Homo sapiens: one gene and its partner. The protein of the gene in region 2 interacts with the protein of the main gene of each other region in a pairwise test. Each region holds a gene or a part of one and is shown on either strand. Other genes may lie near its edges.

Region 1 (3,454 bases), on a different chromosome or scaffold from region 2:
TCTGCTTAGCTATCACTGTGGTCCTCTGTTACTCATAAGATATTGTCCAACCTCTTTAGAATAGAGCGCTGAGAGTCTGGATTAGCCCTTCATAGCTTCCACATCCTGCCTAACATTCTACATCTCTACCCTTCCTACCTACCCTGTACTCCTCTAAAACTATTCATCATACTTTGTCATACCCAGTACCTCTGACCATGTTTCCTCTTTCATAAAATGGCCTTCTCTTTTACTTGAACTGATGAATGCTCATTCATTTTCTAAGACTCTTCTTAAACATTTATGGCACCTTTTCCAGTCAGAACTGATGTCACCCACCCTTTCGTTCCCTCAACAATTTGTTGTCAACTCCTTGTGGTCATAATCTGAGGCATCATTATTGTGTTGCTTCCTTCTCTACTGAAGCGACTGGAGAACAGTGACTGTACCCAGCCCAAGGCCTGGAACTCAGTGAAGGCTTAATAAACATTTGTGGAATAAAAATTTAATTGATGAAAACATTAATTATATTCAATCAAAACTGTAATATTCTTATGTTTTAAAATGTCTGTGAATAGAGAACTGAACAAGATTGAGAAAAAAAGTAGATGTTAAATTTTCTTAGATCCCATAGAAGAATAATAATTTCTTTTCTCATCTCCAGATTATCTGTTAGAATACTTCAGTGATGGTCATTTAATAAACAAAATGCCCTGGTAGCATCAAATAGTGTTTAACTTGGGAACATTTTTCAGTTCACCAAGTGATCTAGTGCTGTAAATCCATCCTTGGATAGCTTTAATCTCCTATAATAACCAACACTTAATGCTATTTTAACAGAATCTGCTTCAGACAATGGTATACAAAACTAAAGAAATTATCGATAACTTTTCATAAATAAGCAAACTTGGAAAAGGAAACATTTGGAGATATTTTATTTCTGTGATAAGGAAATCTCACATAAAAGTCTTTATCATTTCATTAATTCACAAAAAGTGTTAAATCAGTTAAAATTAAAGAGAAAAGTTCACACCGAATGAAAGACTCGTTTTGTCTTCTCTTCCCCTGCAATATGAGCAAAAATATATTAAATACTAATTAAACTAATAGGTGCAGTAAGTAACTGGTTCTATTATTTTATATCAGAGAAATATTGGATACGTAGGAAAGTCTTCTGATAGCATTTGTTGAAGTCTTTTAAATAACCAAAAAGGATTTTGCATAGTTGAGCCACTAATTTAACATTGTGTGCGTAATTTTGTTCAAGTGTTTTTAAAATAAACTTTTTTTTGAATTCCATGTATTTTTAAGAGAATTAATGGCACTCCTCATGATCTATCTCATTATGGATTGATATTTCTGGAGAAACAACATTGTATTCAGGCTTGTCTGAATGTTTTGTTACCTGAAGTAATTTAAACTCCCAAAGCAGCACGAGTTTTTGAAATCAGTTTTTGTCCCTGAAAATTAAGAATAAACATAATCAGATAAAGAAATGGATTATTATACCAATCATACAGTTAACACTCTACAATCCGGGGTGAATTCATAGGTTTGTAGATTAACTAAGTTAAAAATGAAGAAACACATCTCTGATGCCAACAACCTGGGATAGTAAAAGCCAGGGAGAAAACAATATTCTTTCACATCAACAGTTTTCTTCTATAACAATCTCCAAATCAATGCGTATTCTCAATCTTTCCCCTTCCTCTACAAATTACAAGTTATTAGAAATTAAAAGGTTTGCAGATAAAGCACTGCTACTATTTGTTCATGTTCTCTATATCTAAATAAATGTCTTCTCAGATTAGAGAACATTAATCTTCTTGTGTCATGTTTTTCAGAAATGCTTCACATCAAATCTGTTTCACCAGTTTTATCTAATTTGGTTATCTATGTCCCACCCTACCTGATCCCACCAAAAACACACACATATACTGGTAAGTGCACACACTCAAATGCATCTAATTATATTATTTATAGAAAAACTCTACATTTCTAAATATATCTGTCTTTGGATTTTACATGGTGAGAAAGGTAAAATTGACAAAAACGCTAAGTTATAGAATATCTTTTTAAAGTATAGTGTTGCTATATTCAAATATATGTAGCAATACAAACTAAAGATTTGTAAAATTTAGCCAATTATCTTGATTGTGATAATCATTTCACAATGTATAAATATATTGAAACATCACATGTTCACCCTAAACATATATAATTTGTATTTGTCAATCATGCCTCAATAAAGCTGAAAAAAGGTAATTTTTTTAAATGTTAGGTAGAATCCCCTGGTTAAAGAAAATCTGGCTAATTATCCAGCTAAAATTACTATGTAATTAAAATAACTCCTAAATACTACTCTGTTGATGTACAAAAGCAAGCTTCTAAATGAGTTCAAAAACATTTTCTACAAATAGACTCCTAATACTCTGTTTGCACAATTAATTTGCTATTAAATCCTTTAATCCATTTAGCTGAATTGATCAATTTTAGGCCAGAAACTATCTAAATTACCGTCAATTATTTACACATTCACTTTATGGGTTTCTCTACTAGGAAATAAATTAAAATTACTAATTCTATTAATATATTTTAATATTATAAATTTTCCTAATATTAAGCAAGAAAATGTGATTATTTTTTAAATCTTATAGAATCCCTCAATCTGCTTCTCAATGAAATTTAAATCTCTCTGAAAATATTTTAAAGTTATAAATTTGTAGGGTCTTCCTTTCATTATCCACTACAGAAAATTCCATAGCAAGTATTTTGAGTATGAAATGAGCTGCATGTACCTCTTCAGCAAAGCAGACTTCCTGTTCCTGGCCTTGGCAGCATTTCTCCAACAGGCCTGAGAAATCTGCAATGACAGCCTCAAGTTGTTCCTCTGTTATTTGTGGCTTTTGCTTCACAAGGTTAATGAGAAACCTGTGATTTAAAACAAAACAAAATACAAGAGAAGTCTGTTATGCAATGCTATTTTTCTACAGCCTTCCTAGTAGAGAATTTTCAGAGCCTAAACCCTTACTCCATCAACCTATCACCAGACTGACCACACACACCTTGTCTAGTACTTTCAGTAGAAAGATTGAGGCTGAAAGCATGCCAAGTGTTCCACCAGCCTGGAGTTGTGCAGGTTGTGGATAAAACACTATTTCATACTTGACCATACTTATGTGTAGTGGAAGGCAATCTCCCCTCATCCCCCAGGAATATCCTTTCCTGTCCGCTCTTCTTAACTGTGTCTTATCTACACTCAAAGACCCAGATCTCCGAATCCTGCCCATCCAGTTATCACACCCCTTATCTGGGCACTGGCAGCACTAATTGCCTGCACTGCTCACTTAGCAAGCCTTTCATGTTGGACTTAGACCAGAGCAATAGAAAGTAGACCAGAGCAATAGAAAAAGCTTGCCAGAACAGGCAACATTCTTATCATACTGTGAAACATACCTCAGACTGTGATAGAGGA
Region 2 (3,500 bases):
CGGGAAGCAGGGGTTGCAGCGAGCAGAGATCATGCCACTGCACACCAGACCGGGTGACAGTGCGAGACTCAGTCTCAAAAAAAAAAAAAAGCTGATAAATGAGTGGAGGAACAAACAAGACCTCAAAGTAACAATTTACTTGGGTATTAAAATCAGATGTTACTGATGTCTCATTCTCCTTAATCTGGCATTTTAGGGCAGCAAAACCAGTCTGTGTGGAGTCAGTGGTTTCTAAATAGAATTATTCTATAAACTCAAGAGCTGTGGACCCATCACCCGGAACTCAAATGAGACTTGGACAGACAGGAGGTCACTCTTGGCCAGGAAAAAGCACAAAGTTGGGCGGCAGAAGTAAAATGGGCAGACACAAAGCTGTTTACCTACTCACTTTCAACAACTTTTCCTAATTCAGCTTTATGCTCATGACACAAATTACCACAGTTCACTGGCAAGAGAAACCAATTTTCCCATTTTACAAATGAAGCTGCTTTGTATCAATGTCAAACTTCTTAAATTTGATGACTTTATCAAGGTGACAGAAGAGAACATCTTGAAGGATTCAGAGGTGAAAGGCTGTGGTGCCTGCTATTTACCCTCAAATGGTTCCCCACGCACACGAAACAATGATAGGAATAACAATGTGTGTGTGAGAGGCAGAACACATGTGTCAAAATGCTAACAACTGACACATCTGAGTAAAGGACAGATCAGTGTTTGTTGAACGTTACTGTTACTTTTCTGCAAGTCTGAAATTTAAGTAAAAAAAAGAAAAAATAAAAACTACTTAATAGAAAAGGTTATTCCACCTTTACCACCATTTAAAGGTATCAGATGGGGAGAAATAAAAGCAATACTTTGATGGAGATACCTAATACCTTTGAATAAAGCAATTCAGAACAATTCTAAAATTACCATAAGTATCTTCATTTTAGAATAACTGCAAAGATTCATCCGTATGGTATCTGGGGATAAATCATTCTCCCCAACAAACAGTGAACATCTGTTATATAAAAACCTTGTAAGAGGCTAGATAACAACACAATGGCATAGCAAAGTCTCAAACTGGCAATTTCCAAACTACTCAAGGCAGCAGTTTTCCTAGATGTGGAGCCAAGACACCAAGACAGAAAATATTAAGAGGTAAATGACAGCTGGAAAAACACCAGCTACACGATACACACAACCTGTTCGAATTTCTGGACCTATGCAATTTGACCCAGAAGCAATAATGTAAATGTTAGAACTTGAAAATCCCAATTCTTCTAAATATAATTTTATCACTATTTTTTGCAGTCATTAAAAAAAAAAAAATTATCAGCCACCTGTAATCCCAGCACTTTGGGAGGCTGGAGCAGGCAGATCACCTGAGCCCAGGAGTTCGAGACCAACCTGGGCAACATGGCAAAATCCCATCTCTACAAAAAATACAAAAATTAGATGGGTGTGGCAGAATATGGCTGTAGTCACAGCTACTCAGGAGGCTGCGGTGGGTGGATCACCTGAGCCCGGGGAAGTCGAGGTGGCAGTGAGCTGTGATTGCACCACTGTACTCCAGCCTGTGCAGCAGAGTGAGAGCCTGTCAAAAAATCTCCTAATCTAGCAGCTAGAGCTAAAACATAAATGCAAAAAGCTGGTTAGCAAATGAGGAAGAGAGGGGGCAAAAAAATAACTACTATTTACAGGCCAGGCATTGGAGCACATGCTTTATATACGTTATTTCCAACCATTACAACTTGGTGTGGTAGGTATTACCAATACCACTTCACAGGTAAGGAAATTGAGGTTCAGATAGAAATCAAATACCCCAATCCCTCAGAGATTAAGTAGTAAAGAAGGACCACAATCACTCCTCTAGGTCAAAATGTACCTGCCAAGTTTCAATGTAAGGCTTCTACTCTAGAATTCTACTCAAATCTCACCTTCTTCATAAGACCTGTCCTGACATTTTTTTTTTTTTTTTTTTTAAACAGACAGGGTCTCACTCTGTTGCCCAAGATGTAGTACAATGGCTTGATCACAGCTCATTGCAACCTCAAACTCCTGGGCTCATACAATGCTTCTGCCTCAGGCTCCCAAGCAACTGGGACTACAGGCACACACCACCACACTCAGCTTATATATATATGTGGCACAGACCGGGTCTTGCTATGTTGCCTAGGCTGGTCTTAAACTCCTGGCCTCAAGCAACCCTCCCACCTCAGGCTCCTAAAGCACTAGATTACAGGCATGAGCCACCGTGCCTGGCCCTGATCTTTCTATTTAACACTGCCATCTGCCTCCACCCCAGCCCCTGCCCACAACTCCCAAGTCCCCTTATCATGTGTGAATTTAATTTTTTGTTTTATGATCATTGCAAATTCATATGCAGATGTAAAAAATAGAGCATTTCCATATGAAGTTGACTCAGTTTCTCTCAAAGATAGTATCTTGTGTAACTATAGTACAATATCATCTGTATTACTTTTTTTCTTAGTATCACTTTCTAATACAGGCTGAGTAGCCCTTATCCAAAATGCCAGGGACCAGAAGTGTTTCAGATTTCAGGTTTTGGAATATCTACATTATAACTCACCCAATTCAGCATCCCTAATCCAAAAATCCAGAATCAAAAATGCTCCAATGAGGCTGGGCAGAGTGGCTCATGCCTATAATCCATCCAAGCATTTTGGGAGGCCGAGGTGGGCAGATTACTTGAAGTCAGGAGTTTGACACCAGCCTGGCCAACATGGTGAAACCCCATCTCTACTAAAACTACAAAAAATTAGCCGGGCATGGTGGCGTGTGCCTATCACTCCAGCTACTTGGGAGGCTGAGGCAGAAGAATCACTTGAACCCGGGAGACAGAGGTTGCAGTGAGCCGAGATCATGCCACTGCACTCCAGCCTGGGCAACAGAGCAAAACTCCATCTCAAAAAAGAAAAAAATAATAAAAATAAAAATGTTACAATGAGTATCATGTTAGCACTCAAAAACTTTAGGATTTTGGAGCTTTTCAGATTTCAGACTATAAAAATATATTCATAATACACAGGTTGTATAACCTGTGTATATTTATATATATTTATAATACCTGTGTATTAATTTAGAATACCTGTGTATTATAAATATACTTCTCACAGTTGTTTATTGTCTATTTACCCTCACTAAAATACAAAATCCTCGAGAGCAGGAATCACTATCAGAATTGTGTTGACTGCTATATAGCAAGCACCTAGAACACGGCCTAATCTATAGTAGGAACTCAGTATATATTTGCTGAATGAATCAAAGCATTGTATTGCACCTCCTCTTCTAAGAGAAAACAGACCAGCTCTTCAAGAGACCATCGTGGTAAGTAAGAGTACTCTTAAACATCAGGAAAACGTTACACTCACCCATGGTGACATAAGGCAACTTATCAGTTGATCCATGAGGATAGATGCTGTAGAGGTGAGGTCCAGTAACATCTACTCCCCCTAAAACTAGGGCTGCACCAATGTAACCTTGATACCTGGTGATCA

Evidence for each region. The genes of interacting proteins can lie anywhere in the genome.
Region 1: the proteins of PSMB7 (region 2) and AFP interact in a two-hybrid assay, tested with the Homo sapiens proteins (one large-scale study listed by BioGRID and IntAct).

What each region holds. Positions count from the first base shown.
Region 1 is NC_000004.12:73,453,221-73,456,674, reverse strand, and holds the end of AFP (alpha-fetoprotein isoform 1 precursor), read right to left. Parts: intron 2,911-3,454; coding exon 2,778-2,910; intron 1,440-2,777; coding exon 1,395-1,439; 3' UTR 1,385-1,394; intron 1,045-1,384; 3' UTR 501-1,044; downstream 1-500. UniProt on the Homo sapiens protein: Binds copper, nickel, and fatty acids as well as, and bilirubin less well than, serum albumin. Only a small percentage (less than 2%) of the human AFP shows estrogen-binding properties.
Region 2 is NC_000009.12:124,401,943-124,405,442, forward strand, and holds part of PSMB7 (proteasome subunit beta type-7 precursor), read right to left. Parts: intron 3,491-3,500; coding exon 3,375-3,490; intron 1-3,374. UniProt on the Homo sapiens protein: Component of the 20S core proteasome complex involved in the proteolytic degradation of most intracellular proteins. This complex plays numerous essential roles within the cell by associating with different regulatory particles.